Linked DNA regions of Homo sapiens: region 1 is linked to region 2. Evidence: fine-mapped expression QTL. A gene starts in region 2. The other region holds a variant in brackets. All regions are shown on one strand. Distances are between the middles of the regions. Region 1 overlaps MYT1L (myelin transcription factor 1 like). Region 2 holds the start of PXDN (peroxidasin).

The links. PIP is the estimated chance that this variant, and not a neighbour inherited with it, causes the effect.
Region 1: its variant is fine-mapped to the expression of PXDN in caudate (GTEx, PIP above 0.99). The same link has a PIP of 0.9 or more in nucleus accumbens.

The regions. Positions count from the first base shown.
Region 1 is chr2:1,808,425-1,824,671 of GRCh38, forward strand. MYT1L (myelin transcription factor 1 like) reads right to left here. Exons shown (of 25, transcript NM_001303052.2): 22 at 652-743. It overlaps LOC124905967 (a long non-coding RNA gene), which reads left to right and starts at 15,121. Exons shown (of 4, transcript XR_007086192.1): 1 at 15,121-15,205; 2 at 15,871-16,247. RefSeq lists an enhancer at 7,910-8,822. The variant A/G (reference allele first, on the strand shown) is at 9,098.
Region 2 is chr2:1,741,287-1,756,553 of GRCh38, forward strand. It overlaps PXDN (peroxidasin), which reads right to left and starts at 3,229. Exons shown (of 23, transcript NM_012293.3): 1 at 2,970-3,229. The coding sequence starts at 3,169. It overlaps LOC124907724 (a long non-coding RNA gene), which reads left to right and starts at 9,441. Exons shown (of 2, transcript XR_007086189.1): 1 at 9,441-10,188; 2 at 11,486-12,668. RefSeq lists an enhancer at 9,994-10,494.

The DNA.
Region 1 (16,247 bases), 68 kb after region 2:
GCCTGCGTCTACAAATTAATTTCGGCAGGGAGGTGACCTCGCAAATAGAGTCCCCAGATCATGAGGGTGGACTGTGGATGTTTCTAAGGGCTTAAGTGGCTCTCCTCTCTCCTGCTCCTCCAGAGGCCCCCAGTTTTCCTCTGCAGAACTCTCTACACACCTGTGCTGGTTGGTGACAAGAGAGACCCTCAGAACAAAACAGATTTGCAGGTGGAATCAAGAAAATCAGGCACCAGACATGCAGAGAGTGAGGGCGACAGGGGAGGGGGTGCCATCCTTGTTATCTGTGGCCTGGGGTGGCCCCAAAGCTGCTCCTGGGTGGAGAAACCCTGGATGAGGGCCTGAGGGACACAGGCAGAAATGTGGGCACACTGGGGTTCCAGGGAGTAAATCGTCCAGTGCTGGAGAGACCCTCAGGACTTGGGCTCATGATTCCGGTGAGCAGTGAAATCGGTGAAGGTGGGAGACGGTTTTGAGAAAGACTGCTTTTTCTCAAGTTGCTTCGCTTTATAGATGAGAGGGCCAGAATTATCTCTGCCCCTGCTTTCTAAGAAAAGTGAGCTGTAACTGTCAAAGGACACACAGCTGGCATGGCCGTGCCCGCTGGGCCTTCCTGACCATGGGTGCCACGAGGGCTGGAGGGGTGCTCACCGTTGCTGGCCCGCTGTTTGATGGTCAGCATCTGCTCTCCAGAAAGCTTTGCCTTCTTCATCGCTGACGTGGCTCTCGGGCATCCTGACAAGCTGTGGACAAGACACAGGACGGCCATTAGTCAACTGTCTAATGTCCCAGCCCTGCAGGGAAGTGGTGGTAAGCAAGGCGTAGAATAGCATTATTAGGTTGGTTGCCAGCAAAAGGCTGTCTGAAAATGAGAAAAAGCAAAAAGACCAATGCATACAGTATGACAGTTATGCACACATGGGGTGCATGTGTGTGCACTCATGCATGTGGTGAGCACTGATCATGGGTGCTCGGCTGGGGCTGCCTCTTGGCGGGGGGTCTTGGGAGCTGGGGCTCTGAGAGCAGAGGAAATCTGCCCTTCATTGTATAACTTTCAGAGCTTTTTGGAACTTTTGTAGAGTGATAATATTGCTTAAAAATCTTTATTATGGAAAGCATCAAGCTCATAGAAAGGTTGGGTTTAAAAGTTAATTTCAAATATACAAAAGTAGAGACAGCAGAATAATGAACTCACCCCAAATTCAGCTGTTATCTCTCAAGGCTAGTCACCTGTGCCCCTCCTGCTTCCCCAGTCTCAAAGGTGAAAACATAACTGCAATCTCCTTATCTCACTTACAATTTTTAGCCAGTTTTCTAGTATCAGCAGCTATTCAGTCTGTTTTCAAACTTTCCAGGTGTCTCTTCACTTTTCTCAGCCACTGGTTTGTCGACGTCAGGATGCGTCTCAGCTCTTCACAGTGTATGTGGCAGATGTGGCTGGCAGCCTCCGGGGCAGGAAGGCACCTCTGCCTCCTTTTCTGTCCTGTTGGGTGTTTGCTGAAGATGGCGTGTCCTGTGTGCGGAGCGCCTCTTCCATGCAGTCCCGTGCCTCGGCTTCCTCACAACTCCTCAGTCTCCGAGGGGCCTTCCCTCCCTTCCAGGGGCTCCTGGACGTGCTGGTCAACTGGAGTCCTCACTGTGCTAAAGGCCAGGGGCCATCTGGCACTTAACTATGGGTGAGGTGAAAAACTTCTATATATAACGCTTTTTTTTTTTTTTTTTGAGAGGGTCTTGCTCTGTCACCCAGGCTGGAGTGCAGTGGCCCGATGTCGGCTCACTGCAGCCTCTGCCTCCTGGGTTCCAGTGATTCTCCCGCCTCAGCCTCCCGATTACAGAATTATAGCCTCTGGGATTACAGGTGTGTGCCACCACACCTGGCTAATTTTTGTATTTTTAGTAGAGACAGGGTTTCACCATATTGGCCAGGCTGGTCTTCAACTCCTGACCTCAGGTGATCTGCCCGCCTTGGCCTCCCAAAGTGCTAGGATTACAGGCATGAGCCACCGCACCCCGCCTATAATGTTTTATATATGTATATGACATATGTGTTTATTCTCTCTATACATAATATTGTATTTCACCTGTATATGAAGTGTTAGATGGACCGTGTCCGTAAGTGGTGTGATGATGTGTTAGTGATATATCTAGAAACACTCTTTACTAGTGCAGGCAGATTACATCATTATTAGAAATATCTCTAATATCTGCATTAATATAATTAAGCTTTCTAAATATTATTTTTGTAATACATTTTCTTTTAAAATTTAAGAAAACAGGAAAATTCATAGCAGAAGAACTTGATCGTAATACATTTTCAACTGGGGATATTAGTGGTTGTTTTTGGGGAAATCCTATCTTTGTATAAAAATATTTCCAGTATTCTTCATCCACACCACAGGTCTAAGTTGTTATTTTTTTGATGTGATGTTTGCATCTCATAATTATAATAGAATATTCATAAAATTCTAAATAATCATTGCTGTTGCCTGACTGTGTCCCCTGAAAACTCGTGCACTGAAATCCTGACCCCCACCGGGATGGTGTTAGGAGAAGGGGCGTATGGGAAGTGAGGAGGCCTCGTGATGGGATCCGTGCCCTTATAACAGGGACCCAGACAGCTCCTTAACCCCTTCTCCCATGTGAGGACAGAGTGAGAAGGCGTCGTCCACCAACCAGAGAGCAGCAGTTGCCAGATGCCGAATCTGCTGGTGCCTCGGTCTCGGACTTCCAGTCTCCAGAACTTGGAGGAATAAATTTCTGGTTTCTATGCTGCCCAAGGTATGGTATTTGTTTTTGCAGCCCTGGAACGTCTAAGACAATCACCAGTATTTGTTGCTCATACCACAACTCTGTGGCTGTGAACTGCTGTGTTTGCTGATGATGTTCCTAGGTTCAGTGGGAGAAGGAGCAGCGGGGACTTTAACCCCAGCGTCATCAGCTCCAGCATCATCAGCTCTGGCGTCATCAGCTCTGGCGTCATCAGCTCCAGCATCATCAGCTCCCGCGTCCTATCCCATCCCAGGGCAAGCCGCACGGGAAGCCCCAGGAGCAGAGAGGCCTCTGGGAACTGGGTGGCCTGACAGGGTGGGCACGGTGGGCGCCCTGGCTTCTCCTGCTTGCCCTGACTGCATCCCCAGGAATCCGGACAGTCCCTGAGGGGGTCCTGGCTCGTGGTTCCCTTTGCTGTTTTTTTGTTCATTTATTTGTTACTAGACATTGGCACTGCTGCTTCTGATGGATCCTCTCACCCTGCCTGCTGCTGTTTACACCGGAAATCCCTGTGCTACTCAAGCTGTCTTTAGTGTGGGGCGTGAACGAACCCCTCGCGTTCCGGAGGGAACAGGCTCCTCTTCAGTCCTCCCTGATGGGGCCTGGGCAACAACCTGGCAGTCGTCCCCACTCCGGGGCACCCTCCTGGGTCTTCTCCTGCCTCCCCATCAGATCCCAGCAGGACGCCCTGCAAATCCGGCTGGGGTGGGGGCTGACACTTCTGCTTCCCTAGCTTATCCGTAAATCTGCTTCTGAAGGCGAGCTGGATATTTTCATTTGTAAAATAAGAAGTTCTCAAAAGATCTGTTAAGGCTCTCCTAAAATAGGATGCTTGGATGTTAACGCCACTTTTCCCCTTCCTGCCACTGGACACACTGTGGCTGTCACACACATCTTCCTGCAGGTGTGTCTGCGCTTTGGCCCCCGCATCCAGGTAGACTCTGCAGTCAGGTGACTACATCTGGCAAGTCCTTTGTGAGACCAGGAGGCCCACTGGACCTCACACCGCACCCCCTGATGCTCTAACGCACATAAGACGTGGAACTGGCTAGGAAAGACTTAGGCAGTCCTGTTTGCTCACTTATGAAATGAGAATAAAATATTGAATTGACTGTGTTTGTGAAGTTTAATGAAAAGAATGTGTATTCTTGAGGGCAAGGATTAAAATGCACTTTTTTGTTCACTGCTCTGTATCCCCATGATGGGAGAGTGCTGGAGATGGAATAGGTGCCCAGTGACGACTTCTGAAAGCATAAAATGTCTGAATGCACTTTGTGATGGCTCAGTGAGTGGAGGCCCAGGGTGAGTGTGAGTGCACCCAGGCTCTGGAAGGTGCAGACTGAGCCCTCAAAGAGGCCTGCGGCAGGATTTTGCAGGACTTCCAAGTTAAGAGAAGACTCTTAGCCGGGCGCGGTGGTTCATGCCTGTAATCCTAGCACTTTGTGAGGCCGAGGCGGACAGATCATGAGGTCAGGAGTTCCAGACCAGCCTGGCCAACATGGTGAAACCCTGTCTCTACTAAAAATACAAAAATTAGCTGGGCGTGGTGGCAGGTGCCTATAATCCCAGCTACTTGGGAGGCTGAGGCAGGAGAATCTCTTGAACCCGGGAGGCAGAGGTTGCAGTGAGCCGAGATCGCACTGCTGCACTCCAGCCTGGGTGACAGAGCAGGACTCCGTCTCAAAAAAAAAAAAAAAAAAAAAGACTCTTGAATGCAGCTGCCGCCCTGGGTTAAGATGAGAGGAGGGCTGGGGTGAGGGCCTCCTGCAGAGGTCCTAAGACTGTGACTGTAGGACAAGGGTGACGCCTGGTCGGTCCACGGTGCGTGTGGCCCAGCCCGGCTCAGTATGATCCTCACAAATGCAGGGAGCAGCTCCCATCTTTCCCCCGCTGAACCTCTCTGGCCTTCCGCCGTCTGAACCTCCGCAGCCCTTTCGACTTTCCCTGTGTTTGCGAATGGCATTGAGGGGCCAGGAGCTGCAGGTGGGGGGGAGAGAGGGAGGGCCACAAAGGCACGCCTCCTCCTCCTTGCCGTCCTCCCAGCGAGCAGCCTCTGCTGTTTGCGCCTGAACCCCCTCCCTTCTCTTCATCACTTCAGTCCAGGTCTGTGCTTCTTTCTCCCTCAGCGAGGCCCCTGGGCCTCAGCCTGGGTCCCATCCGTTCCATCCCACAGCTGAGAAATGGCCCCAGGGGCACAGCTGTGATTGCCCCCACTCCCCCAGGAGAGCTTCCAGCAGCTTCTCTGAGAGCAGCTGCCGATGCTGGAATATTTCCTAGAGCAGGGGTCCCCAAACTCCCGGCCGTGGCCTGTGAGGAACCGGGCCGTACAGGTGGAGGTGGGCAGTGGGCGGGCGAGCATTCTCACCTGAGCTCCGCCTCCCGACACGTCAGCGGCGGGATTCGATTCTCCCAGGAGCGCAAACGCTACTGAGAACTGCGCCTGCGAGGGGGTCCGGGCTGCGGGCTCCTTAGAAGTTAATCCTGGTGATCCCAGGTGGAACGGTTTCATCCAGAAACCATCCCACCCCTTTTCTGTAGAAAAATTAGCTTCCGGCCGGGCGCGGTGGCTCACGCCTGTAATCCCAGCACTTTGGGAGGCCGAGGCGGGCGGATCACGCGGTCAGGAGATCGAGACCATCCTGGCTAACACGGTGAAACCCCGTCTGTACTAGAAATACAAAAAATTAGCCGGGCGTGGTAGCGGGCGCCTGTAGTCCCAGCTACTCGGGAGGCTGAGGCAGGAGAATGGCGCGAACCCGGGAGGCGGAGCTTGCAGTGAGCCGAGATCGCGCCACTGCACTCCAGCCTGGGCGACAGAGCGAGACTCCGTCCCCAAAAAAAAAAAAAAAAGAAAGAAAAATTAGCTTCCATGAAACCGGTCCCTTGTGCCAAAAGGTTGGGGGCCGCTGTCCTAGATGGCCTTTGCGACGGGCTCTTCTCACACGTGCTGCCTCCCGCTGTCCACTCACGAATTCCCCAGGCCAGCGATCTTCTCTGCCGCTAGGTGAACGCCCCTGGCACTCCCACTTGAGTTTGCTGTCCCGCCCTGTCCCCATCCAACTGACCTCCCAACTCTTTACTGTTTTGTCCACAAAGCAGGGCCCGGCCTGCACCAGGAGGCCCTCCAGGCCCAGGCTCTGGCCCACCACAGCGCTGCCTTCCTCGAATCCCCTGCGCCCTGGAGCGCAGCCTCCCGGGACGTGGACATGGGCGGTTCCCATCCTTGGTTATCTTTTCCTCTTCTGCTGGTCTGAGGGTGGTTCCTCGGAATGCCCACCACATTGCTATGTGTATCCCGGTGTCCAGGAGCCTTTGCAGATGGGACATGTTTAGTAAAAATGCACAGCATAGAAAATGGAAACAGACTGACATCATGTCAGTGATTTTTCCTTTAGGATTCGGCTTTTGCAGAAACTGCCCCCAGCCTCCACCTCACTGGGGGTGCGGAGCTCCCCAGCCTCTTTCTCTTTTATGGGTCTTGCCGCAGAATTTTTAAAGATCTGCTCAGTTAAGTTCTTTAGGGCAGGTCTCACTTTCTTTTTCCCACAGTGCACTAAATGCTTGCAGAATGGTAGGTGCAGGCCTGGCGGAGAGCATTCACCCATGAACGAACAGCTCCTTAGTGGTGGGGTGGAGAGTGGAACCTCGTTTCCCTGGCTCTGCTCCAGGCTTGCTTCTTGGGGATTCTTGTTACCTACAACCTAGGAGCTCCAGGGAGAAGTGAAGTACAGGCTTGGAAGTCAGACTTTCTCTGCTAAGTCCTGCTTCTGCTGCTGACTTATTCTAGTGACCTTTCTAAGCTCGGGTGTTTCATTTGTAAAATGGGAATTTAAAAGCAAACAAAATTTCCCACCTCATAGGGATATTTTGAAGGTTGAATATAGAGAAAGGATATTAAACCAGAACCATGAAAGGCAGATGTCAGGATAGCCAGGCCTGGGAGAACAGGTGAGGTTCCGTCCTGTGGAATCAGCTCAGTGAGCTCCGGCCGCCACAGGCCTGGCTCTCTGGGGCACATGGTTGAGAGCCCGAGGTGAGGCCCCTCTGCGGCTGGGCTTGGTGACGCAGCTCCCAGAGCCTGGCTGTGTTGGTGCGGATGTCTCTGCCACCTTCGCTGAGCAGCATCAACAGGCCCCTTCCCCATCCTCTCTGTCGCTGGGGTCCCTCCCTGCTCCCACTCGTCATGAGGGGGTGCATTTGCTTCTTCAGTGGCTCTTGCCTCATGATGCTGTCAGCTCTACCCCAGCAGGGTCATCCCCGTGTCCTTTCCACCCTCTCCACTCAGAATCACGGTTCCTGCCTGGGAAACCACGGGCCCTAGAGGGATGTCTGTTGCGTGAATAAAATAGGAAGGACAGTGTCCTGCCTCTCAGTTGTCAGGAAGCAAGAGGGGCCGAGAGGCCGAGCTGCTTTCCCACTCTGATTCTGAGGAGGGAAGAGTGTGGGGGAGCACCCCCCTGGGTACACCTCCATGGAATCCTAACAGCCACCCCTTCCCCATGCCCTGCCCCCAGAACTCCCGGCCTCTCCGCACCAGACAGTCGGTCAGGCCAGTGTCCCAGGGCTGCCTGGCCCATCTCTCCTTTGTCCTGTAGTTTATCTTTTCTAGTTTAGAATTATTTTTTGTCTCTTCTTAGCCATAGATGGCTTTTCCTGCATTCAAACCCTTAGACTGGGGAGTGGCTCCAGGCATCCAGGTGAGAGGCACACGGCACCGCCCCGAGAAACTCCGTGGCTCCCTGTGCATCAGCACGCTTCATCACCAATGGAACGCCCCATGGCACAGTTATCTCTTTTTTTTCTTTTAAAAATATTTTAATAGAAACTAGGTCTCACCATGTTGCCCAGGCTGGTCTCGAACTCCTGATCTCAAGCGACCCTCCTGCCTCAGCCTCCCAAAGTGCTAGGATTACAGGTATGAACCACCACATTCAGCCTTTTTGTTGTTGTTGTTAAGAAATAAAACAGAAATTTTGATGGCTTAAAGTCCCATGTTAAAAATTTTGTATTATCCATTACTAACACATCACACAAGCACTTTCCAGCTCAGGTAGTGTTTGGGGACCCAAGGCAAGCGATCATTCTGAGCTACGCTGTATGGATTAGCGAATGAAGCAGAAGCACTTGGGGAAACCGGACAGGCCCCGCGGATAGCAGTTGTGTGGTGCCTGGCAATTCCTGGCTCAGGAGCAGAGCTCTCCGCCGGGTTCCCAGAAGCTTTGGGCCCCGGTGGGCACCCCCAGAGGAGAGAGGGAGGAGCCGCTCAAGCCCCCCCACGCCACTCACGATGCTTCCTCCCTCCTGTTTTAGATCCAGCAGAGAAACCAGCCTAACGGGGAGGAGGTGCTGCGTGAGGAGCCAAGGACATTCCCAGCAAATACTTTCACAGCTTAAAAGCCACAGCCAAAAGCAGCTGCTGAGGCTACGCCAAGACGAAGGCGCATAAAATGAGGATGGACATGGTGCACGTTGGCTGCTTTGACTTGACTTCAGGGAAACCCCGTCACCCATGTTCTCTCGCTTCAGGCGCTTCTTTCAAGGCCACTGAGTGAGCGCACAGTGACAGCTGTGGCCCCCCAGGGGGTGGCCCTGTCCCGTTCCTATGCCCCAGTGTATGCACAGGGCCTCACTGCCCGGCTGGGGGCCTGGGGCCTGCATTGTAGGGTGAGAGGTAGACGAGAGGACCCCGGGGTCCTGCCAGTTGGTTCCGTCCCAGGGTGGACCCCTGTTGTCGGCAGCACCCAGGGGTCCCTGCAGACGCCGTGCTCCAGAGGGGCTGCACACGGCCACCTTGTCCTCAGCTCCCCATGGGTGCCTCAGCTCCTGAAATCATGCAGTGTGGTCAGAAGGTGGCTCCTGCTGGGAGGTGGGCACTGGGGTACTTGTCCACTCTTATGTCAAAAAGGCCCATTTTCTCATGACTTGATTACAAAGTTCCTTATTAAGTGTATTTAGTCATATCTATTAGGGATCTCCCCATCCTGGCTTCTCCTACCTTGAAAATAAAGGAACAGAACTAAGTTATGTGCGGTTAATTAAGTGCATGGGAGAGAACCACCCAGAGGACCGACGGCTCCAGGAAGCAGAGGCCACCGGTGCAGGGAGGCAAGTCCCCCATGGGTGGGGGGATAGGGGCGCCACACGGCCGGAAACTGCAGAGTCCACATTCCTGGACCCACACTGCGGTTCAGCACCGGCTTTGCCCACAGTCTCACGCTGCTTCTCTTCACTCTCAGTTAATAAAACTGCCTGCTGGGAATGACAAATAATGGTGTTATTTAAGGAGCAGGAGCCTTCAGCAAGAGTTTGGGAAACTAAATTAGGAAAC[A/G]AAGACGGGCCTGAAGAATGATGCATTCTGTCCAAACGCGGCTGTGTCGGTGCTGCCAATTCCAATCCGGTGACTGCACTGCCAGCTCAGGTCCAATTTGGAAGAGAACCCTGGGAGCAGGCCCAGCGCGGCCCTGGGGGGTGGTGGCGGCCCTGGTGCGGTGACAGTGCCATCTAGCGGTGGCCTGGGGGCGGTGCTGGTCCCGGGCTCTCGGGAAAGTCCACACACCTGGCTCAGCCAAGGAGGTCAGCCCACGGCTGGTCCCGGGTGTAAATTATAAAGAGGGTGCTTACTATTTTACTCACACGTTAGTTCTGAACCTGAGACCCAGCGGCCTGTTACAGAAACGCTTCTCCAATTAAAGTCAAGTGCTGCTGAGTGTAGGTTTGGAAGTCACCAAGTTTCAGTGCGGGGAGGTTCCGGGCAGCAAGTAGTTAGGCGGCTGCTCCACCCGCTTGCCCCAGGCCCCAGACGTCTGGCACCAGGCGTCAGCACCAGGGATTCCAGATGAAGGTTCCAGCGAAAGCTTTAGAAGGGCTTCAAACCGAGCTCCGGGAGGCCCTGACATTTTTTATCAGGACATCAGCTAGAAGGGCCTTTTCCTGGAGAACATTACAGTTGGAAATAACTAAATAAGTGAAACTTTCGAAGGGGGATATGGTTAACAAGACACACAGATTGGGAAGAAAAATAAGTAATTTGAGAGGAGGTGGGAGTGTGTGTAGAAGCTTTGTTGCAGCTGGAAGGTGCTAGGATGAGAACTCACGACAAAGAGCTGCGGGTGGGAAGAGCCCAGCCAGGTGCTGTCTGCGATTCAGTATCCTCTGAACATCAGCTCCACACAGCCAGGGGCAAACAGTTTCCTTCACAGTGAGTTTCACTCTAATAACATTTTATTTATTTTACTATTCCCTATTCCACTGCTACTATTTTAATACTCTAACTATATAATATGTAATTTATATGAGACACAATACACTCCAGGTGTACACTGTTACTGTGTATTTTAATCCTATTCTTGTCACTGATTGACTCATGATGACGGAGCATCTCCTCAATAAGCAAACAGGGATTTGGTGCAGCAGCCACAGCCTGTCCTGCATTTGCCCCGGTCGCCACGAGAGCAGCTCTCCTGTGGTTCGCTTCCCGGACTCTGGCCCCAGCATATGTGAGGAAGGGCAGGAGGGTGTTCTTGGAGCCACGTGACATTTCTGCCTCTGACTGTGTATCAGATCTGCTTCCATCTCAGTGGGAAGCAATGGCATCGTGGTCCCTTCTCAAGCCAAGATCCAGAATTTGGAGGTTTTTCCCCTAAAAATATTCTGTGCCAAACAGGGTGCTCTCAAACCATGGAGAGAGGGAAGCGTTTCTAGAACAGTGACCTCTGTGGCAGGTGGACGCCTCGGCCACAGCCACACAGGCAGGTGGTGCAGAAAGTGCAGCTGTGGGTGGCCGTGTGACCACCCAGATGGCCCCCAGCTCCCAGCTCCCAGACCAGGTCCCTCCCACTGGGGTGCATGTCCACCTGCCTCAGGAAACAAAGGTCCCTCTCAAAGCCTGAGGGATGGCAGCTACCCACACAGCTCATTCCTGCAGCCCAGGGAGTCCACCTGCCTCCTGCCCAAGGGATGGATTCTGGAGCCACTGCTATTCGGCAGTGACAATCAAAACACTGTTAGGAGAAGAAGGCCTGAGAAGAGACGTTTTGAAGAGCCACTTCCATAGGTCATCAAACGTCCTATCTCTATTCACTCATCAGCAACACTTACCTCCTGTCCTCAAGCACAGTCCTAACAGGAGGGTCATGACAATGCTAACAGCAGTGGTGAGCTGCTGTAAATGCTTTACTTATCACATGCTGGCATGCTCTTCAGACTTGGCCCACTGCTCAAACAATCTATGACCATCCCATTTTACAGAGGAGAGAATCGAGACGCAGAACAGCTAACTTGCCCCAGACCATACAGTCAGAAAAGGCAGGGCTGAGTTTATACCCAGGCCATCCAGCACCAGCCTCACCCTCCACTCCTCCTCCTGCAGCCTCTCTCCATGCACCCGTGAGTGACAGATGCTACACTCGGGCCCTGCCAGTGCAGTTCGGGCAGAGGCCCCTGTGAATACACATGCCCTACAGGGATGCACATGGTCCGATGATGTGATGCTCTGCAGCATTACAGAGGGAGGTGGAGTCCGCATGGGTATTTAAAGACAGACATTTGTTTGAAGAGGACAAGGAGCAGTGGAAGGGCCAAAGAAGCCTGAGCAGCATGTCTTCAGCTTTGAATTTAGGTCTGGGTGCAACCAAGGGGCAGAGAGGCAGGGAGCTGGAGGGATGGGTAAGAGCTTATTAGGGAAGATCTCAAGTGCCTTACAGAGGAGAATGGATTTAGCTTCTAGGCAATGACAAAGGATTGGAAGCATGTAATCCTGGCAACCACACAGTAGAGTTTGCTTGGTAGAGAGCTCACTGGCAGCAGCCTGGAGGATGCTTGCAGAGGGCAGAGGGCAGTGGGGGGGGGCCAGCGAGGAAGCTGGCAGAGGGGCCTGGGGGAGGAATGAGGGAGTACAGCCTGAGGCAGCAATGGGTTCAGAAGAGAGCACCCACTCAAGAGGAGTAAGAAGGGCTGGGGCTTGGTCACCCATTGGATGGGGCTTGCTGCTTTTGCATTCCAAATTGATAGTTTGGTTGAGTATAGAATACTGAGTGTGCAATCATTTTCCTAAGAGTTTTGAAGGCATTGTTCTATTTGATTCTTGTTTCCAGCATTGCTGTTGAGTACATCTCTTAGCTTCCTTTTCTTTTGTCTCTCACTTTGTCTCTGTTTGTCCCTCTCTTTCTCTGTATCCCCACTCCAGGTTCTCAAAATTTCATGATGATGAACCTCTGTGTGGTTGGCTATGACAGTTTTATATGTCAACATGGAGAGGACACAGCATCCAGTTGTTTAATCAAATACTTATCTAAGTGTTGCTGCGAAGGTATTTTGTAGAGTGACTAACATCTACCATCAGTTGGCTTTTTGTTGTTGTTGTTGTTGTTGTTGAGACAGGGTTTTGCTGTTGTTACCTAGGCTGGAGTTCAGTGGCATGATCATACTCACTGCAGCCTCCAACTCTTGGGCTCAAGCAATTCTCACTCCTCAGCCTCCCAAATAGCTATGACCACAGCCATGTACCACCATGCCTGGTTAATTTTTAAATTTTTTGTAGAGATGATGTCTTGCCATGTTGCCCAGGTTGGTCTTAAACTCTTGGGCTCAAGTGATCCTCCTGCGTCCTCCTCCCTAAATACTGGGATTACAGGTGTGAGCCACCACACTTGGCCTAGCTGACTTTAAGTAAGGAGATTATTCTCAATACTCTCAGTGGGCCGGACTCAAGCAGTCAAAAGACCTTAAGAATATAACTAAGGTTTCCCCGAGGAAGAAGAAATTCTCCCTGTGGAATGGAACTTCTCCTGAACAAGAGTTTCTAGGCTGCCTGTCTGCCCTACAGATTTTGGACTTGTGGAGCCGGTCCCAGATGGTGTCAGCCAGTTCCTTGTGATGAACCCGTCCATATATAAATCCTACTGGTCCTGCTTCTCAGGTAGAGCCCCGGACGACATAGAACCATTTCATGATTGCGTGGCTACTCAACGAGGCCTTTATATCTGAAAACTCAAGATCTCTGCCATGGGGATTTTCCTTGTTTTCTTTCTTTGGGAATTTTCTTTCTTCCATTTGCTCTACTCTCGCTACTTCTTCAGAAACTCCTATTAGTTGATTACTAACTCTCCTGAATTCTTTATTTTTTTTTAACAAAATCTTTTATCTTCTTTTCTCATCTCTTTATAATTTATGGGACATTACCTCAATTTTACATTTTAACTTTCAAAGTAAACTTTTTATTTATTTTTTAAAATAGATATTCGTGTTCTCTGAATGTTTCTTGGGTTATGAATACAATATATTTTAATGTTCTTTCTGTTCTTTTCTGTCTGATGACAAATTATAGGTTTTTAAAAAGATTGCTCCTCTTTCCAGAAATGTTTCTGCTTCCTCTGAGCTTCTTTTGCCCCCTGGTAAGGCTGGTTTGTTTGCTTGGTTTCTGCCATGTTGTTTACTGCTTGCCTTCAGTGGCCGGAGTCCTTGGCTGTTCACGCATACATCCCAGACATTGGTGCCTGGAGGCCCTTTATCTTGAATCTGTTGGTTCTAGAGAAGAGGCCCCTGCTCTGTCTGGAGTGGCGGGGAGTGGAGAAGGCAGAGGAGCAGGAGGAGCCGCTGGATTCCCGGAGCCACACGGGACCAAGGCCTTGGGGCCTGTCCATCTCACTTGACGTTCCCATCTTCAGTACAACGGCTCATCCTGTTTCCAGCTCTTCCTAGCACTAGCTCCAGAGCTTCTGTTCTAGCTTATCCTTCTGCCGGGGAGAAGGAGGCCTGTGGCAGGGCATCCGGGAGTCGAACCCCTCTTAGACAATTCAACTACTCCTCTGTTTTCCGACCAACTCTGAATCCCCACTCTAGGTCCCAGCCTCTTTTCTATGGAGGTTCTGCATGCTCTTCACTCCTCTTTTTCTGGGTTCTTTCTTCACTCTTTCTCTCCACCCCCATCCTCTCCCTCCCCAACAGCTCCTCTGCAGGGAGCTGAGGCCTGAGCCATGTGTGCTTGGGCTGGGCGGCTCCCAGTGCTTTGTGGATGGGATGGTCTGCACTTCCCTTCCTTATTTAGTTATTTAGTTGCATTATATTTGTGGGTTTATAAGAGGAGAGTGGGTCATTTTAGTAGTGTTTTAAGATTTAGTGGAGATATATGTGATTTCAGTCTGCAGAGCTTGGCTAGGATTCCCAATAGAGATGCCTAATAAACCCAGTATTGAGGAACACACGTGCACCTTTCTGCAAGGTGTCTGCCATCTTTGTGTGGGTTGGGTCTGTTTCCTGGAGAGCGCAGGGTGTGTCCACTGTCAGCCCCTCTTCCCCAGGGATGCTCCTGCGTGCTCAGCAGGCACTTGGCTGCCACAGGATGGCGAGGGCTGGCCCTGGGACCACATGGATCTGAGGGTGGAGGCAGAAGTGTGGCCTACAGCCTGTGTCCTTCGAGAGGGTCCCCTTCCTTCCTCCAGGGACAGGATGGCTGTTGTGGTAGCAAACTCACCCTGAGGTGGTCTCCGAGTGTCAGGGGCTGAGGTGCAGGACCCGGATATCTGGGTCCCTGGCAGTCAGAAGCCACCGCCTCATGGCTGCTGCTGTGTCCACGGTGAAACCCTCCTCTCCTGTGAAGGAGCCACTGCCTCACCAGGGCTGCTGTGTCCACAGTGAAACCCTCCTCTCCTGGAGGGTTTCTCTTTCTCAGGAGCAGCTGCTTGCTGCTGAGGACTGAGTGTAATCCTAGCAGAAGGGAAATGTTTAGTTTTGTTTCTCCTTTTGCTTGCCTCTCAGGAGCCTCGGTTGTTAACGTTATCACTGCTGTGGCTTGGCTGTGTCTCCTGAAGGGATATGTTGATGGCCTGGCCCCTACACCTGTGAAAGGGACCTTATTGCACCTCGTTTTCTTTTTAACATGTGAACCATAACTCTTCTGCAAATGTGAGCTTTTGCCCTAAGCTCCTCAAATGGCATCGACACGTGGGAGGAAAAGATCCTCAATGAGGAGACACCTGTCCTGCTGCACAGCCCTGTGGCAGCTTGGCCTCCCCAGGCAGACCCAGCAGGGGCACCCAGCTGGTGGTGCTGGCTGTTATAGTCGTGGTGGTTGTGGTAGTGAGGGCTGTTGCTGCTGTTGTCAGAGCTGTGGCTGTGAGGCTGTTGTTGCTGTGGTTGTGGCTGCAACCTTCATTGTCATAGATATAGCTGTGGCAGCTGTAGTTGTAGCCTTCTCTCCACTTGGGGCACTCAGGTCCACCCTATCTGGCTCAGGGCTTCGGCTCCGGGGTCCTGGAGGAGGGAGCAGGCAGTGGGCTGGAGTGGGTGTGGTTGACGCTGGAGGGCAGCCTCTGAGCAGCTCCCCCAGGACGGAAGCGAAGGCTGCAGGCGGGGCTTGGGTCAGGCTCCTGGGAGAAGCAGTGACGAGGCTGGGTGCCTGCAGGAAGACCCTCAGCTGGCTGCATGTTCAGCCCTGCAGGTGGGTCGTGCTCCTGGGAGGAGCAGCGATGAGGCTGAGTGCCTGTAGGAAGACCCGTGGCTGGCCGCATGTTCAGCCCTGCAGGTGGGTCAGGCTCCTGGCACGAGCAGCGATGAGGCTGGGTCCCTGTAGGAAGATCCGTGGCTGGAGGCGTGTTCAGCCCTGCACTGCCAGTGGTGGCGGCCCTCGTCCCGTGTGGTCAAATTTACATTTATATTTACTGAAATCTAACAATTTTTAAAAGTTCTCTGTCACAGGAGCCAAACTTCAAGAGCTGAGTAGTCTCAGGTGTCCAGTGACCATTACGTGGCACAGTGTTGGCCTGGGCCTCGCCGTCCCTGGCACGACCCATGGGATGAGGCCGCGCCTCCCCCCCCAGCGGGGCCGCCGGGCAGAGGTGATGTGGGATGCTCAGTGACTTTTTAGGGAACGTGCCAAGCCCTCTCCATGGGGGTTGGGGAACGTTTTTAGTTTGGATTCTAAACAGAGAGTGATTCTTGCTATGGAACAAATTTAAATAATAGCTAATAAAGCAGACTAGACTTACTAAACATATTCCTATGCTTAGGAGCCTGCATTAAGCATTTTAGATACATGACCCCAACCAATTCTTCCAACAATCTGTAATGTAGATTCAGTTTGGTATTTTCTCCACGTCTCTCTAGGGTTAGGTAATTTTGTGCCCAGCAGAGCAGGGCGGTGCTCTGTCCTCTGGGAAATACTGCCTTCCTGGAATGTTCCCTCCAACCCAGAGTGCTGAGAAGGCTGGCAGGATAGAGGCCAGAACATGTCTGACGTCAGCGCCAGCCTGGACGGAGAGCTCGGATCCCAGAGAAGGCTGAGCACAGGGAGGAGAGGGGCATGGGCCTCTGCATTTGAGCTGCTCTCGTCCTGAAGTTTGTGCCCTGGGCCCTGTGAGAACTCAGGGGCCAGCCTGTGACACCCCGGCCAGGCCATGCGAGGGTGGCGCCGGGACGCCGCCCTCTGCGGCTCCTTTGGGGAGCACTGACCAGCACTCAGGGATGGATCCGTGCAGCGAGTT
Region 2 (15,267 bases):
CTTCTATTGTGTTGGGTACAGAATGATTCTGTATTCAAAAACCAACCATTTCTACACAGCTGAACTAAGTAAGGCCTCCAGAGGGGAGGCGCTCTGCAGGAGACCCAACAGCAAGGCCAAACCGCCGACCGAGCAGCACAGGGCGCGGGCTCCTGCCATTCCAGAGCTCCCTTCACACTTGCAGCTGAGGGAGCTCAAAGGTCGATCCAAACTGAGTCATGGATGGGCTTATTCCACTGTTTTCCAAAGCCCCCAAGCCACAAATCAAACAACCCAGTATCAGACCCGCTTAAACACACTCCTGGAGCATTTGAGGGGAAGGAGCAATAAGATGTTTTCCAATGGCTCTGATTTAATCTTTTGGGGGACTGGGATGGAGGTGAGTCTCTAAAAGCAAAGGGACGGTGTGATGGTTGGATGAGCCAACTAACTTTGGGGCAGGTTTTTTTTTAAATTTTCATATATAGTATATTCCCAATTTCTACCAAAAAATTGTAATAGAAAATAATCACATATACATGAGAGCACAGTCCTGGGAGAAAGCCGAAAGTGGACATGAAATGTTGCTTCACGTGTAGCATGTATCATGTAGAACTGTGTCATCTCAAGCAACAGCCTACCAGACCATGCCCCCAGAGACCCCTCAACAGGATATCCCCGCAGAATAGGTCTCCCTCTTCCCTCAGTCCCTGCCTCCCCAGGCTGCACTCACTAGCGCTCGCTCATGACACCTGTCCACTGTGCCTAGGTCCGCACAGCTACACCCTCACGTTCTCCCAGGAGACACGGGACTTGCTAAAAATCACGCGGCTGCAATGCATCCAGCCAGGACTCCATTCTGGCCACCAGCGCTACGCTCCTCCTCTTGGCCACAGGAATAGCGTCAGGAGCTGCGCTTCTCTCCCAGAGCTTCTGTTTCCACCGCCAGAAAATGGGTATGTTCATTTCTCCAGTAAAGTGTTTAGTTCTATAAGGGATTCGATCAACTTAACAGCTACCAGTCTACCTGCCTCACAGAATCAACGTGACTCAACAGCGACATTTCGAAGTATCACTGAAGACTGCAAAAACCCCTGAAAGTTTAAGATAGAAATGGATGCAAATGTACCCTATGAGGAAGTGTTGTGCGAGTGGACGATGATGTCACCCGTCTACTCTCAGCTCCTTTTTCAAATTCGGTGAGGCGTTTGTGGACGAGCACACCATGCAAAGCGGAGCAGAGGACCCCATGTGTGTCCTACGACACTTATTTTAACATGTTATTTTCAACAAGCAATTAATATTCCGGGGCAAAACATACCGCAAGCTTTATGAAACTGACCAGATGGGAAAAATCTTTGAGGTGCCATTTTTCCACTGGCTCAGCAAGAATTACATTATCCAGACCCAGGGAAACCTCACCCGGCTCCATTCTAAAAGTCCACTGCTGTTGAGTGAGATGCCCCCGAGTCGTCCGGCCTGGGCTGACCATTCACGGGCTCTGGAAAGAAAGCCTTGGTCTCTCTGCGGAGGAGGAGAGGAACTCGGGCCCCCGCCCCGCCCCAGGGCCTCCAGGAAGCAGCCTGCAAACTCGGCGACCCCTGGGAGCCGTGGTCTGTCCCAGCACTTTGTTTCGGAGGTAGGCGCACTGGCCGCCCACTTCCTGAATTGTTCACTCAATTTTTTTACAACTTTTGCAGACTCTTTGCTGGTGCCAAAAAGTCCTCTGGCTCAGCTAAGAAACGTGAAAACTATTTTTGGCATGCAGAAAAGTCGCTACAGGACTAAATTAGAGTCGGCGCCTGAAACGCAGCCCGCGTTCACAGATCCCGAAAATGTTGAATCCGACTCGCTTCAGAACACAGGAGGCCTGCAGCGAACTCTGGCGGCATCTCGGTACCTGGAGCCGCGGGGCGGAGGGATGGGGATTCCTGCTGTGGAGACCGTGACGCGGGACGGCCCGCAGGACAGGGTGTCAACCCCAACGCAACGCATCCGGTTAAACGTATAGCGCAACTGCGAACACGCTCGCGTGGATTAGAAGCGAAAGAAGAGAAATGCCCGAGGCAGAAACCCGCTCTGAGTCCCGGCTCCATCTAGACCCGGGCTGCCCCGAGACTACCGCGCGGCCCCTCTCGGGAACCCCGGCCGCCCGGCTCGCTCCGGGCGCAGGAAAAGCCCCTGAGAAGCGCGGGGCCCCCAGGACACCCCAGGAGAGGACGCTCCGGGCAGATGCGGGGGCACTGGGAGCGGGGGCGCCGCGGCTGCGGGAACTGAGGCTCCTCTGGGGAGGCTTCCCCGGCGCGGGGGGATGGGGTGGGCACTGCGCTCCAAGGGGCGGGGGAGGGGGAGAGGGCGGAGGCTGGGGGAGGAGAAGGAAGGGGGGGAGGAGGAGGGGAAGGGAGGAGGAGGAGGAAGGGGAGGAGGAGGAGGAAGGGGAGGAGGAGGAGGAAGGGGAGGAGGAAGAGGAGCGGAGGAGGGGAGCGAACAGGACGAGGAACGGGGCGGAGGGGGCTGGGAGGACGGAGGGGGCTGCGCCGCGCTCGGGGAGCGGAGGGGGACCGAGGGGTCCTGAGCGGGGGAAAGGTGAGCGGAGGAGGGGCCGCGAACCAGGGGGAAGCGGGAGGCCGGCGGAGCATGAGAGGGGGCGGCGGGAGGCGAGCGGGGGGAGCCCCGGAGGCTCCAACAACTTCCCAGTCCTGCGGGGATTCCGAGTTCCGAACAAAGGCGGCTACGAAGGCCGCGCGCACAGCGCTCTGTTCCGCCCCTCGGCGTCTCCCGCAGGGCGAACAAAGGCCCAGCGGGTCCCCGCGCCCAGGTCCCCCCACGTCCCCCTTCGGAGGTTCCCTTCTGCGTCCCAAGTCCCCAGGCCCCCCGCGCGCCCGATGCCCCCTCCACCCTCCGCGCCCCCCACCTCCGATCACCCCTGCGCTCCCGGATCTCCACGAAGCCCCGGACCCCGCGCCCCCGGCGTCCCCCGCGGCACTCACAGGATGGAGGTCTGCGGCGCCACGGCGGGCACGGCCTCCAGCAGCAGATGCATGCAGCGCACGGTGGTGCGGAAGCACAGGCAGCGGCTCGGACACCCTGCGCCCGGCTTCTGGGCCACCACGGCCAGCGTCCCCCAGGCGCAGAACAGCACGAGCGCCAACAGGCAGCGGCGCCCGGGGCCCCTGGAGCGCTTGGCCATGGCCGACGGCGCGGACGGACGCTCGGACGCACGGAGCCACCACGGCCGGCTCCCGACTGCGCCCGCCCGGCCGCGGCCCACGTCCCAGCTGTGCGCGGGGGGCGGGGGGCGCCAGCTGTGCACATGCGCGAGGCTCCTCCCGGCCCCTCTGAATCCCCGAGGGCGGGGCGGGGCGAGAACCCGGGGCCCCAGCGTCCGGCCTGAGCGCCCTCATCCCGGTGGGGCGGCCCGCATGGCCAAGGCGAGCGCTCGGGGGCGCGGAGGAGAGCATTGGCACCCCTGATTCTGCGCTCGAGACTCGGGGCTCGGGACCCTGGGGCCTACGCGAAGCTTCTCCACTTCTCTTACCCGTGGTTTCTGCCTGCGCTCACTACGGGTTTTTTAGTTGGCGCCTTAATGTTTGTAACACTTTTAGAGCGCTTGCTCTGATCCGGGCACGATTCCAGGCGCGCAGGCGCGCTCCTCTCTTTCTCCTTCTCCCTACCCGCAACCACGTAGGAAATTATTTAACGTTCCAAAAAAGCCCCTCATTCCTTTTGAGGAAACTGAGGCCCAAGCCCCAAAGCGCACAGCAAGGGAGTCTGCGGGAAGATTAGACCCAGGCGGTCCGGCTCCCCGGGGCCTGTCAGCCACCTGCTCTCTGCCGGCCGCCTGGCTCAGCACAGTTGGGAAAATGAAAGGTCCTGTGTGGAGTCCTTGGCGCGGCGCAATGCAGCCCCCGGGATTCTCGCGGCCTTCAGTGCGTGCCCTCCTGGGACAGACCTAGGAGGAGACCCAGGGAACCCCCCCCCCCCACGTCGGGTGTGTCTAGAGACAGCAGAAGACTTTGGAAAGGAGGGAAGACACTGCGTGAGATACGCACAAAGGTGGCGTTCTCACATAGTTCATACATTCTCTCCAATCATCTCACAAGGACCCAGTCTGAATTTCACAGACAAGGAAGGTGAGGCCAAGTTGCTGAACCCAGGCCACAGGGTGACGGTGCCAGATTCAGAGGCACAGCATGGGCGTGTTCCCGTCGCAAACCCCAAGTCTCAGCTGTGTCCCCGTGCTGGTGTTCTAGCCTGAGCTGCGTTTGAAAGCAGCCTGGAATGGGATTGGTGGGTAATAGGCTAGTTTCCTGTTGCTATGTTAAAACACAAAAGCAACTACCACGAGACATAGCCCGGAGGTCACAGGTGCATTGCTGACCACAGGGCACCATCTAAGGACTGGACCCCCGAGGCTGCTGGCAGGGGGTTCCAGTTCCTTGCCGTGTGGGTCTCCATGGCCTGCACACTGGACATGGCCTGATGCCTCCCAGAGCAGGTATTAGAAGAAAGAGGAAGAGAATGAGAGTACAACACAGAAGCCAGGGTAAAACCTAACCCAGCCTTGGAACTGGCCCCGCATCACACCTGCGGGGTGCATCCTCAGAGGTCGGTGGCTCCCGCTGACATTCCAGATGCCATCTTTCCTGCAGGATTTTATCCACCCTCTACAGCGGATGCAGCTCACACTCCGGATTCCATTTCTCCTGCAGGATCCTATTCACACACTCCGGTGGGCCCAGCTCACACTGCAGACAACATCTCTCCTGCAGGATACTATCCACACACAGAAGTGGGTCCAGCTCACACTGCAGACATCTCTCCTGCAAGATCCTATTCACACATTCCAGTGACTCCAGTTCACACTGTAGATGCCAAAACTTATGCAGGATTCTATGCACACACACTAGTGGTGCATTTCACACTCCGGATGCCGTATCTTCTGCAGAATCCTGTCCACACATTTCAGTGGGTCCAGTTCACGCTCTACATGTGCTCTCTCCTGCGGGCTCCTATCCACACACTCCGGAGGTGCCATTCACACTCTAGATGCCATCTCTCCTGCAGGACGATGTCCACACCCTCCAGTGGGTCCAGTTCACACTCTAGAGGACATCACTTTTGCAGGATCCTCTCTACACATTCCACCGGTGCCATTCACACCACAGATGCTGTCTCTTTGCAGAGTCCTATCCACATGCCCCAGGGCTGCAGCTCACACTGCAGACACCATCACCCCTGCAGTATCCTATCCACACACCTCAGTGGGTCCCATTCACACTCCAGAGGCTATCACTTTTGCAGGATCCTATACACACACTTTAATGGGGCCAGCTCACAGTCCAGAAGCCGTTACTCCAGCATGATTCTAGCTACACACCCCAGTGGCCCAGTTTACACTGCAGATGCCTTGTCTTCTGCAGGATCCTCTCCAGGCACAACAGTGGGTCCAGTTCACACTCCAGTTGCCATCTCTCCTGCAGGACCCTACCCATACACTCAAGTGGGTCCAGTTCACACTCCAAATGCCATCCACCTGCAGCATCCCAACCTCTCACTCAAGTGGGTGCAGTTCACACTCCAGTTGCCATCTCTCCTGCAGGACCCTACCCACACACTACAGTGCTCCACTTCACACAGCAGACATCATCACTGCTGAAGGCTGCTGTCCACACAGTCCTGTGGATGCAGTGCTCACTCCACATGCCATCACTCTTGCAGGATCCTACCCACACACTCGAGGCAGTCCAGATCACACTGCAGATGTCATCACTCCTGCAAGATGCTATCCATACACTCCAGTGGGTTCGGTTCACACTGCAGATGCCATCTCTCCTCAAAGATCCTGTCTACACATAGCAGTGGTTGAGTTTGGGTCCCACCCAAAGATTCCAGTGGGTCCGCTTCCCACTGCACACGCCATCTCACCTGCAGGATTCTCTCCATACACTCCACTCAGTCCAGTTTACATTCTACATGTCGTCTCTCCTGCAAGATTCTATCCACACACTCGAGTAGGTCCAGCTGAAACTCCATATGCCATCGCCCCTGCGGGATCCTGCGCACACTCTCCAGTGGGTTCAGATTAGACTCCGGGTGCCATCGCCCCTGCGGGATCCTGCGCACACATTCGAGTGGGTTTAGTTCAGATTCCGATGCCATCACCCCTGCAGGGTCCTGTCCACGCACTCCAGAGGATTCATTTCAGACTCCGGGTGCCATCGCCCCTGCGGGATCCTGTGCACACACTCCAGTGGGTTCAGATTAGACTCCGGGTGCCATCACCCCTGCAGGATCCTGTGCACACACTCCAGTGAGTTCAGCCATCACCCCGCAGGATCCTGTGCACACACGCCAGTGGGTTCAGCCATCACCCCGCAGGATCCTGTGCACACACACCAGTGGGTCCAGATGCAGATGCCATCACTCCTCCTGGATCCTCTCCACACCCTCCTGTTGTTCCAGCTCACACTGGACGCCATCTCTCCTGCTGGATTCCATCCACAGATGCTCTTGCGTCCAGCACATGCCACAGCAGAGCATCAACTGGGAGCGTAAGGAACATGAGACAGAACCACTGGGGACCATCTTAGAGGCTGCCTACCACGTGTCACTCTTGAGTTTGTGTAGAACAGGGATGCTTGTGAGAATGCTTCTTCTGTATTTCCATAATGGCAGAATGCTGGGTGGGAGCTGCAAACATTATATTCAGCAGAGGAGGAGACAGAGTCCTAGGCAGACTTCAGTACAGTCCTGCTGTTAAGTACCTGGAGCTAGAGCAGACCCCGCAGGTTACAGATGTGGATGGACCTCAGTAAGGCTGCCCTCACTTTAATACTACCTGTGTGTCCAGTGGTCCCCAGGCCATCCACACTTCTGACTGGTTACAGATTCATAGGTTTCTGAGACCCCCTCCAGCTCCATCTCCTGCTGGAACCACCCACACAACAGATGAAAGTGCTGTGGTTACAAATACAGCTGTATTATAATTGATACCAATCTGAACCTCCAAATGAAATACATCAGGTGAGGTCAGGGAGGGTCCCAAATGCAGAGCCTCTGTGCCTGGCCTGTGGGATCAGGGCCCATCACCACCCGGCACAGGGACATGATCACCAACAGGGAAGCTCTACTGAGCTTTGGTGTCCAGAGTTTTCACCAGGGTTTTATGGCTCAAGCAGGACTGATGACACACTGTCCATGGGGTTGAACTCTCCAGGGAGGTCAGGCTGACAGCACAAGGCCCAAACACTTCACCCTACAATCGCATGGTCAGTCCTAGTGATCAGCCTCCATCCTGTGTTCCTTCATCAGCGTCAGCTCAGACATGGCTGGGAGCTCATCATGAATACACACGCTCCTGTCCCTGGGGAAATTCCAAGGGCTTTGGAAGCTCTGTCCCGGGAACCTGAGGAAAAGACCCAATTCCTTCTCAAACACACAAGCTTTACATGGATACTCGTGTTTAGGAAAGTGGCACCCGCTGCTGTGTCTGCCGTTTTAAGCAAGCACCCCGCTCACAAGGCGTAATTACCTTTTTGGTCATCTAGGGACCCTTTCCAAGCCATCCAGGTGTCCTAGGTACTAAGGAGTCACACATCTACCCGCAGCACGCTCTGGGGCTCCGTACTCACTTCCAGATGCTTTCCAGACATCTCCACCTCGATGTCCCACAAGAATTCCAATGTTATGATGTCAGAAACTAGAACATCGCTCTCCATAAAAAATGCGCTTTTTCTCCAGAATCTCTAATGCAATCCTCCGCCAACCTGGAGGTCATTCTCACCTCAATCCCTACCCCATCCTTAAATACAGCAGTCACAGGATCCTGTTAATTCCTTGTGCTGAGCACTGTTCCTTCCACATGGCTGTTGGCAGAGCTCTGGCCCCTGGACCACCACTGAGACCCCTCCTGGGCATGTGCCTTTGGGTCTGCCTGGCTCATCACAGAGAATGAAGCTCACAGAGAATGTGCCGCAGCTCGGACCCTGCCACCGCTGTATGCAAGCACCTCTCAGCCCCCTGCCTAATGGGGTGGGCTTGGGGCCACCATCTCCGGTGGCTTTGCGTCTGTTCTTCCAGCCCCTTCTCTCCACAAACACCAGACATCAACTTATTTCAACTTTATTTCCTGGCAAACTGCTACTGAACCTTCTAGAATCTGCTCAGTTGGGTGGCTCCCTCTGTGCACCCCTCCAGGCCCTGGTTCCCACCGTCTTCCCAGTGTGAATATCCTTCTAGTGCTACAGCCCACCCCACACAGCCCCAGGACAAGGTTTCCATGCCTAGCTCCCTGTCAAGGCCAAGAGCCCTCGGGGATGGACTAGAACAGTCATTGTTGGGTGAAAACAAGTGTACCATGTGCTACACTGCGTGCATTACTGCCCAGCCCCAGATGATCAGGTGGACTCTTGGGCAGCCTTGCAGTTCTGAGTTTGCCCTGACATTCGCTGGGGTGGGTGACAAAGACTAGAAACATCTGGAAAAGACCTCTGCATTCTCTGCTTTAAGTTTGCTCAAGTTTAGAAATCATCAGAAACATCATAATAATGATTATGAGGTCATTTCAGCATCTCAACAGAACTCCAGGGGAAGTGCTGGGTATGGACATTCCATCGTGAGGAGGGGCCCTGTGACTGCAGATACTCAATGCCTTCCAAGTGCGCTGGTGCCACCTTCAAGTGACACTTCTCAGAGTGTCACCCAGTGGCCCAGAGGCTCCCTAGTGTGTAGTCCACCCTCGCTCAGACACGGCGGCCTGTACCTGACATCCACACTCCCCACCTGCTGCCACCCACAGGAGCATTTCAGGGCATCACGAATTGGTGGCTTTTCTTTCCAGTTCAACAGGCATCTCCCAAGTCACCTGTGGTGATTGCTTTTATATGTCCACGTGGCCACACTCATCTAGACATTGCTCTGAAGGTATTGCGGTTGTGGTTAATCTCTATCATCAGTTGACCTTAGGTGGAGGAGGTGACCTTTGATGATGTGAGTGAGCCCTGTCTAAGCAGGTGGAGGCATTGAGAGCAAAACCTGAGGTTTCCCAGAAAAGGAGAAATTTTGCCTCAAGGCTGCAGCTTCAGCTCCTGATTTCAGACCTGCTGGCCCCACAATCACTTGAGCCGATTTAAAAAATCTATCCATCAATCAATGTATCCATCCACCCATCAACTCACCTATTCATACATGTACTCATCCTTGCATCCATTCATCCCTCCCTCCTTCTTTCCCTCCTTCGTTCATTCTTCTCCTCCCCCCTCCCTCCCTCCCTCCCTCCCCCCCTCCCTCCCCCCCTCCCTCCCTCCCTCCCTCCCCCCTCCCTCCCTCCCTCCCTCCCTCCCCCCTCCCTCCCTCCCTCCCTCCCTCCCTCCCCCCTCCCTCCCTCCCTCCCCCCCCTCCCTCCCTCCCCCCCCTCCCCCCCTCCCTCCCTCCCTCCCTTCTCTTCTTTCCTCCTTCTTCCCCCAATCCCTTCCCTCCTTCCCTCCCTTCTCCCCATCCCCATCCACGGATCCATCCTATGGACCCCATCCTATGTGTCCCTGAAGACCCCCGAGTGGCATAGCATTCGTTTGCATGTGTGTGGCATTGGCAGGGGAGTCTGGGCAGGGGGTGGTCAGTGCAATGACTTGGGCCTGAAAGAATGAGGTTTTGGTGGTGAGCTCTTCCCCTGTGGAGCTGAATGTGCAGCCGTGTGTTTTGTTCACGGCTTCCTGCGTCTGCCCTCTAGAGGCCCACAGAAGCCTCGCACCTCCCCAGCCCGGCGTCTGCGGGTGAATTGTCTGAGCAGGAGCACAACAGCTTAAGCTTCATGTTCTCCGGGCCCAGGTGAAATACTCTCACCCCCTCTGATGGCCACTTTCCAATCCTGTTATCCGCCCCCAGTCTTGTGATCTGTCCCACAGCAAACACTCCTTCCAGGTGTGAGTTGTGCCAAGGAACACTGTTTCGTTGTCACACATAGTACTTAGACGCAGTGAGTGAAGAGACACTTGGTCCCGGGCCCCCTTCTCTGCACACACTGCCCTGTGTGCTACAGCATGCCAGGCAGGGTGCCAGGACAGCAGGCCCGTGAAGACCATGGCGGCGGCTGTCTGAAGACCAGCTCACAGCAGGAGCTGCGCTGAGATCTTCTCCTGGGTGCTCATGCTGGGGCCCGAGGTCGTATGGAAAAGGCTTGTCCCCCTTGCTGGATGTCACAAGGCTCAGGTGAGTGGGTCAGAGCCATGTTCCCAGTGAGTTCCCGGTCAGTGTCAGCTCAACCACAGCAAAGGACAGCCGGGCAGGGCACCAGGCTCCTGGCAGACCCACGGTGAGAGGCAGCTGCAGGCTCAGAACACAATTTACTGTGTTCAGTTCAGCCACAGAAAGATGAGATTCTAGAATTTAAATGCTAAGCATGGAGAGTCACCACTTCTCTGTCCAAAGGTCCCTCCATCCGCCAGAGCACCGGGTCAGGCACCCGGGACATGCCCAGGAGTGGAGAGAAGAGGGGTCCTGAGGGTCCTCACCTTGTGAGAGTCACATCTTCACTGCTCCTCCCCCATGGGATCTTTATGTAAATTAAGCCGCACACTTAGATTCCACATTTTTCTCAGATAGGCGCCAACAGGGGCTTTCTGCATGCCTAGGTGATGAAGTCAGAGGGTGGAAGGCTCATGTCTGGGAGAGGGGTCCCGCTAATAACCCCCTCCCCAACAGGGGTCCTGGGTGTAGACAGAGGCCTCCCCAGCCCAGGCCCTTGGCACGCTGTGTGCGGAGGTGGGCGACCCTCTGTCCACCCTCGGGGAGAGGGTCTGCTTCCTGCCTTCCATGAGCCGCGCTGGGGCTAGCCAAGGCCTCTGCAGGAGGGGGAAGCACCGAGAGGGTTTCAGGGTTACAGTGGAGGGAGTTTAATTGGGCGACTGAGAGGTGAGGCAGTTAGGGAAGCAACCAAGCATCTCCACCATGCCCCCACCCTCGGAGGCCATGGAAGGCGGGGGGAGGAACGTGTGAGCCTCACCTAGCTAGATTTATAACTGCAGGAGGGGCTGCCAGGGGCCATGGCTGCAGGTGGATGGCTGGGAGGGCAGGGAGGGCATGTGGAGCCACTGAGGCTGATGCCATCCCCTGGTCACCCAGGAGGAAGCCAGGCGGTAACGGGGACTGGGCAATTCCCTATTAGAGGTTGGTTCCCCAGGACAGGTGAGGCAAGGAAGGGCAGAGACTGGACCTGGAAAATCCAGCGTGAGCACAGCACCCAGCCAGCTTCCAGGGAAGTGAGCGGGCAATGAAAACAGACAAGGAAGGGCAGAGACCCTGAGAAACTCACAGTTAGGTGGAAACACAGTCTTAAATGCAAGACACTTAGGCCAAGCGTGACGGCTCACACCTGTCATCTCAGCATTTTGGGAGACCAAGATGGGAGAATCACTTGAGTCCTGGAGCTTGAGACCAGCCTGGGCAACGTAGTGAGACCTTGTCTTTACAAAGATAAAACATATATATTTAAAAAATGTTTTTAAAGCCACGTGGATAGAAGCTGCTTGGATGACCACATTAAGTGAATGGCCGCATCTGTGCACTGGCTCTGCAGCCCTGGGCAGCGACACAGAGACAGCAAGCAGAGCATCCATCACCAGGATTCTCAGGCAGGTGTTACACCAGAGCTCATGCGTGTCTGGCCCCAGGCTCTGAGCTGTGGCGCATTCTTCTTGCACATGCCCTGTAGGCCGGGTGAAATGTTGTCACTGAAGGTGAGCTAGGAAGTCACAGGGCAGGTTTCACAAGAGACACATCACAAAGACCCTGCTCATAAAACAGGATGTGGGAGAGAAGCCAGCCAAAACCAAGATGGTGGCAAAAGAAACCTCTGTTCATTATACACTAATCATAATGCATTTGCATATGCTCAATGACGTGCCTGGCAGCACCAAGACAGTTTACAGACGCCATGGCAACGTCTGGAAGTTACCCTATGGGGTCTGAAGTGGGGAGGAATTCTCAGTTCTTGGGGAATTCCCTGCCTTTTTCCCAGAAAACTCATGAATAATCCACCTGTTGTTCGGCATATAATCAAGAAATAACCATAAAAATAGCCACCCTTTTATTCCTGTGCGGTAACCACCCATTTATTTCTTTACTTTCTTGATTAACCTGATTTCACTCTGTCCTCTTGCTCTTTTTTTTTTTTTGAGACAGAGTCTCGCCCTGTCACCAGGCTGGAGTGCAGTGGCATGAACTCAGCTCACTGCAACCTCCACCTCCCGGGTTCCAGCGATTCTCCTGCCTCAGCCTCCCGAGTAGCTGGGATTACAGATGTGCACCACCACGTCCAGCTAATCTTTGTATTTTTAGTAGAGATGGGATTTCACCATGTTGGCCAGGCTGGTCTCAAAATCCTGACCTCAAGCAATCCACCTGCCTCGGCCTCCCAAAGTGCTGGGATTACAGGCGTGAGCCACTGTGCCCAGCCTGTCCTCTCACTCTTGAATTCCTTCCTGCATGACACTAAGAACCCATGTGACCTCCCGGGATGAGCCCCGATTTGGGGGTTCACCTGTGATAAAGTAAGCTGGTGAACAGCAGGGAAGCACTCTGTGTCTGTAGCTTCCTGTGAGTATGCAATCATTTCAAAATTAAAAGTTTGTTAAAGCTATAAAAATTATAAAATAAATTAATAAAAATCATTGTCTCAATCTTCACAACAATCATGAACCTTGAAAATGAATTACTGTTTTGTTTACGCAGAAGAGGAACATGAGACACAGATGGGCTGAGTAAGCCCCCACGACGGCAGCAGGGGAGTGAAATGGAACCAGGGTCTCCAGCCCAGGCCACGCCCCCTCCCCGGGATGCCTGCTTGCTCTGAGCCCAGCGTTTCCATGTGTGAAGTGTCTGCCATGTTAGGGCAGCCGAGGACCCAGCATCCCAGGTTCTCTGTGCAGTGTTCATCACTTGCCCTCCAGATCTTCCCAACTCCCACCTCCCCAGCCGGCCTCCCCACTCCTGCGGAAGTAACTGCTGGGGCCCAGGACTCACTGTTGCCCCAAATGCCCAGCACTTAGCCCTCCTCGTGCAAGACTCAGCTGTAACCTCAGGTCCTTTGAAGGCTCCCATGCACTGGCCCACCTGCGGGGAAAGCTGGTCTTCCTCCGTGCCCGTCATGATGTCTCCGTCCCTTCCTCACCATCACGGCACTGAGTGCCTTACCTGCTCACACACACAGCCGTCTCCCCACCTGGACTGTTCGATCTGATGATTTTTATCAGCGTAGGTGCTGGTAACCACGAGGTAATGTGCTGATGGGGAACTGACGGGTTAGTGAGTGGCTGGACAGCTCCTGCCATGCTGGCTGGTGGGGGCGTCCCCCCTGGACTGTGGGCCCTGCTGGAGCAGGCATCTGATGCACCCCATGGCCCCCACCCAGTGCGTTCCCTGGAACACAGGCTCTGAAATATGCAATGTGTGGATTCACGAGGCAGTGGCCAGGAGGGCTCATGGGGCTTGCTGCCCTGGGGCAGAGGCAGGAAGGGCTGACAGAGGCTCTGGGCCCAGCTCTGCCATGTGGTCTTTGGCAGGCGCTTCTGCTCTTTGTGTCTTGGTCTCCCTGTCTGTTCAATGGAGCCCACCCCAGGTTCTGTGGGCCTCCAGAGCCACCTAGAAAGAGCACCTCAGTAGGTGCAGGCACAAGGGGAGTGCCCGCTCGCACAGCTACCTTCCAGCAAAGCCCACGCTGCCCATGTGCCCACATTCCTTTGCACGATGGTTTTTCTTTTTTTTCTTGTGCTCCCCACACTCCTGGGTCCCCAGCCTCCAGGTCACCCTCCTTATTATATCCAAATGAAACGCTCCACCTCTTCAGCACCCCCTGTCCCCAGACATTTCCAGGAGGTGGCGGGACCCAGGAGTCGGATGCACCCCTGGCACCAGTTACCTCTGGATCCTTCTCTCCTGTTCGCACGGTGCCCACATCATTCAGCCCCCCACTTAACAAGGGGTCCCATCTTTACTGAGGATATGAGGGTGACGGGGACCACAGTTAGCATGGAGCTGCCATTATCTCAAAATCACAGGAAATTTTCTCTCTTTGTAAGTACCCTAAGTCTTCCCCACTGCAGGGAACATCTCACCCACCCCATCCTGGCACATAGACTGTCCTCTCTGGGGTCTTCCAGTATTCAGAACTGGTGCTCCCAAGGCTCCTTCGTCCCCTACCCTGGGCACCTAAAGCTCTTGTCTCCACAGCCCTCCAGGCAAAAACAGGAAATGCATGCTTATTGGGCAGAGTTGTCTGGTTCTGCTCCTTCCCTGCTGCCATTCCAGGAGAGGGCCGGCCTCCTGTGCATAGATGATAGGTAAGCAGGTGTGGTTTCCGAAATGTAGTCTCACCTGCTGGCATCTCTCCCATAGGCGATAGGGGTGCAGCAGCCTCCCCTAACACACTGGGCGGGTGCCTCGCTGGGCAGGAGTCTCCCTAGCGGGGTGCCTCGTGCTCTTCTCCTCCCAGCCCCTTTCTCCTTCCTTTTCCAATAAAAAGGACCTCAAAACAATAGAGCTCAGTGCTGGTGATGAGATCAGTGTGCCTCTGCCCTCTGGGTGCCAGGGGAGAATTCCGCCATGCCTGGCTGTGTGTGTGCTAAGCACAGAGAACAAAGCAGAGCATGTCTCAGCTAAAAGAAACTTCCTGAGAAATTCCAGCTGGAAAGCGCAGGAGTGACCGCAGGCTGCTAGATAAATGAGAGTCGACTTTATAGATGGCTCAGCTAAAAGAAACTTCCTGAGAAATTCCAGCCGGAAAGAGCAGGAGTGACCGCAGGCTGCTGACCGCAGGCTGCTAGATAAATGAGGATCGACTGCGTAGACGGGCAGGAAAGTTGCAGTGAGACAGGAGAGCAATGCTGGCTCTGGGTGCCCTGGGGTTGATAAATATTAGTCTCTGTGGAGTAAATGGATGATGATGGAGCTTCCCCACAGAGAGAAGAACTAAGGCTTTGGATGCTTGGAGCAGATATTTCCATTATTATTAAGTTTGTTTTTTTGTGGATTTAATTAGTACTTATTCAAACTCCATTCGTGATCTGTCATACTGCTCCCTCAAAGCCTAATTGGTTTTCTACATAAAATGTCACATAGTCTTACATCCACTGTGTGGCTGCTGGAAGTCTGTCGCTGTGCTCAGCAGGGGCTGGTTGTGGAGGTGAAATATGGCTTCTTGAGGAGGAACAGAGACTTGTAAACAGGAGGTTGTCAGCCTGGGCTTGGGAAGCATCAAAGCCAGCTGAGGGCCTGTGAAGCCCTGGATGAGGC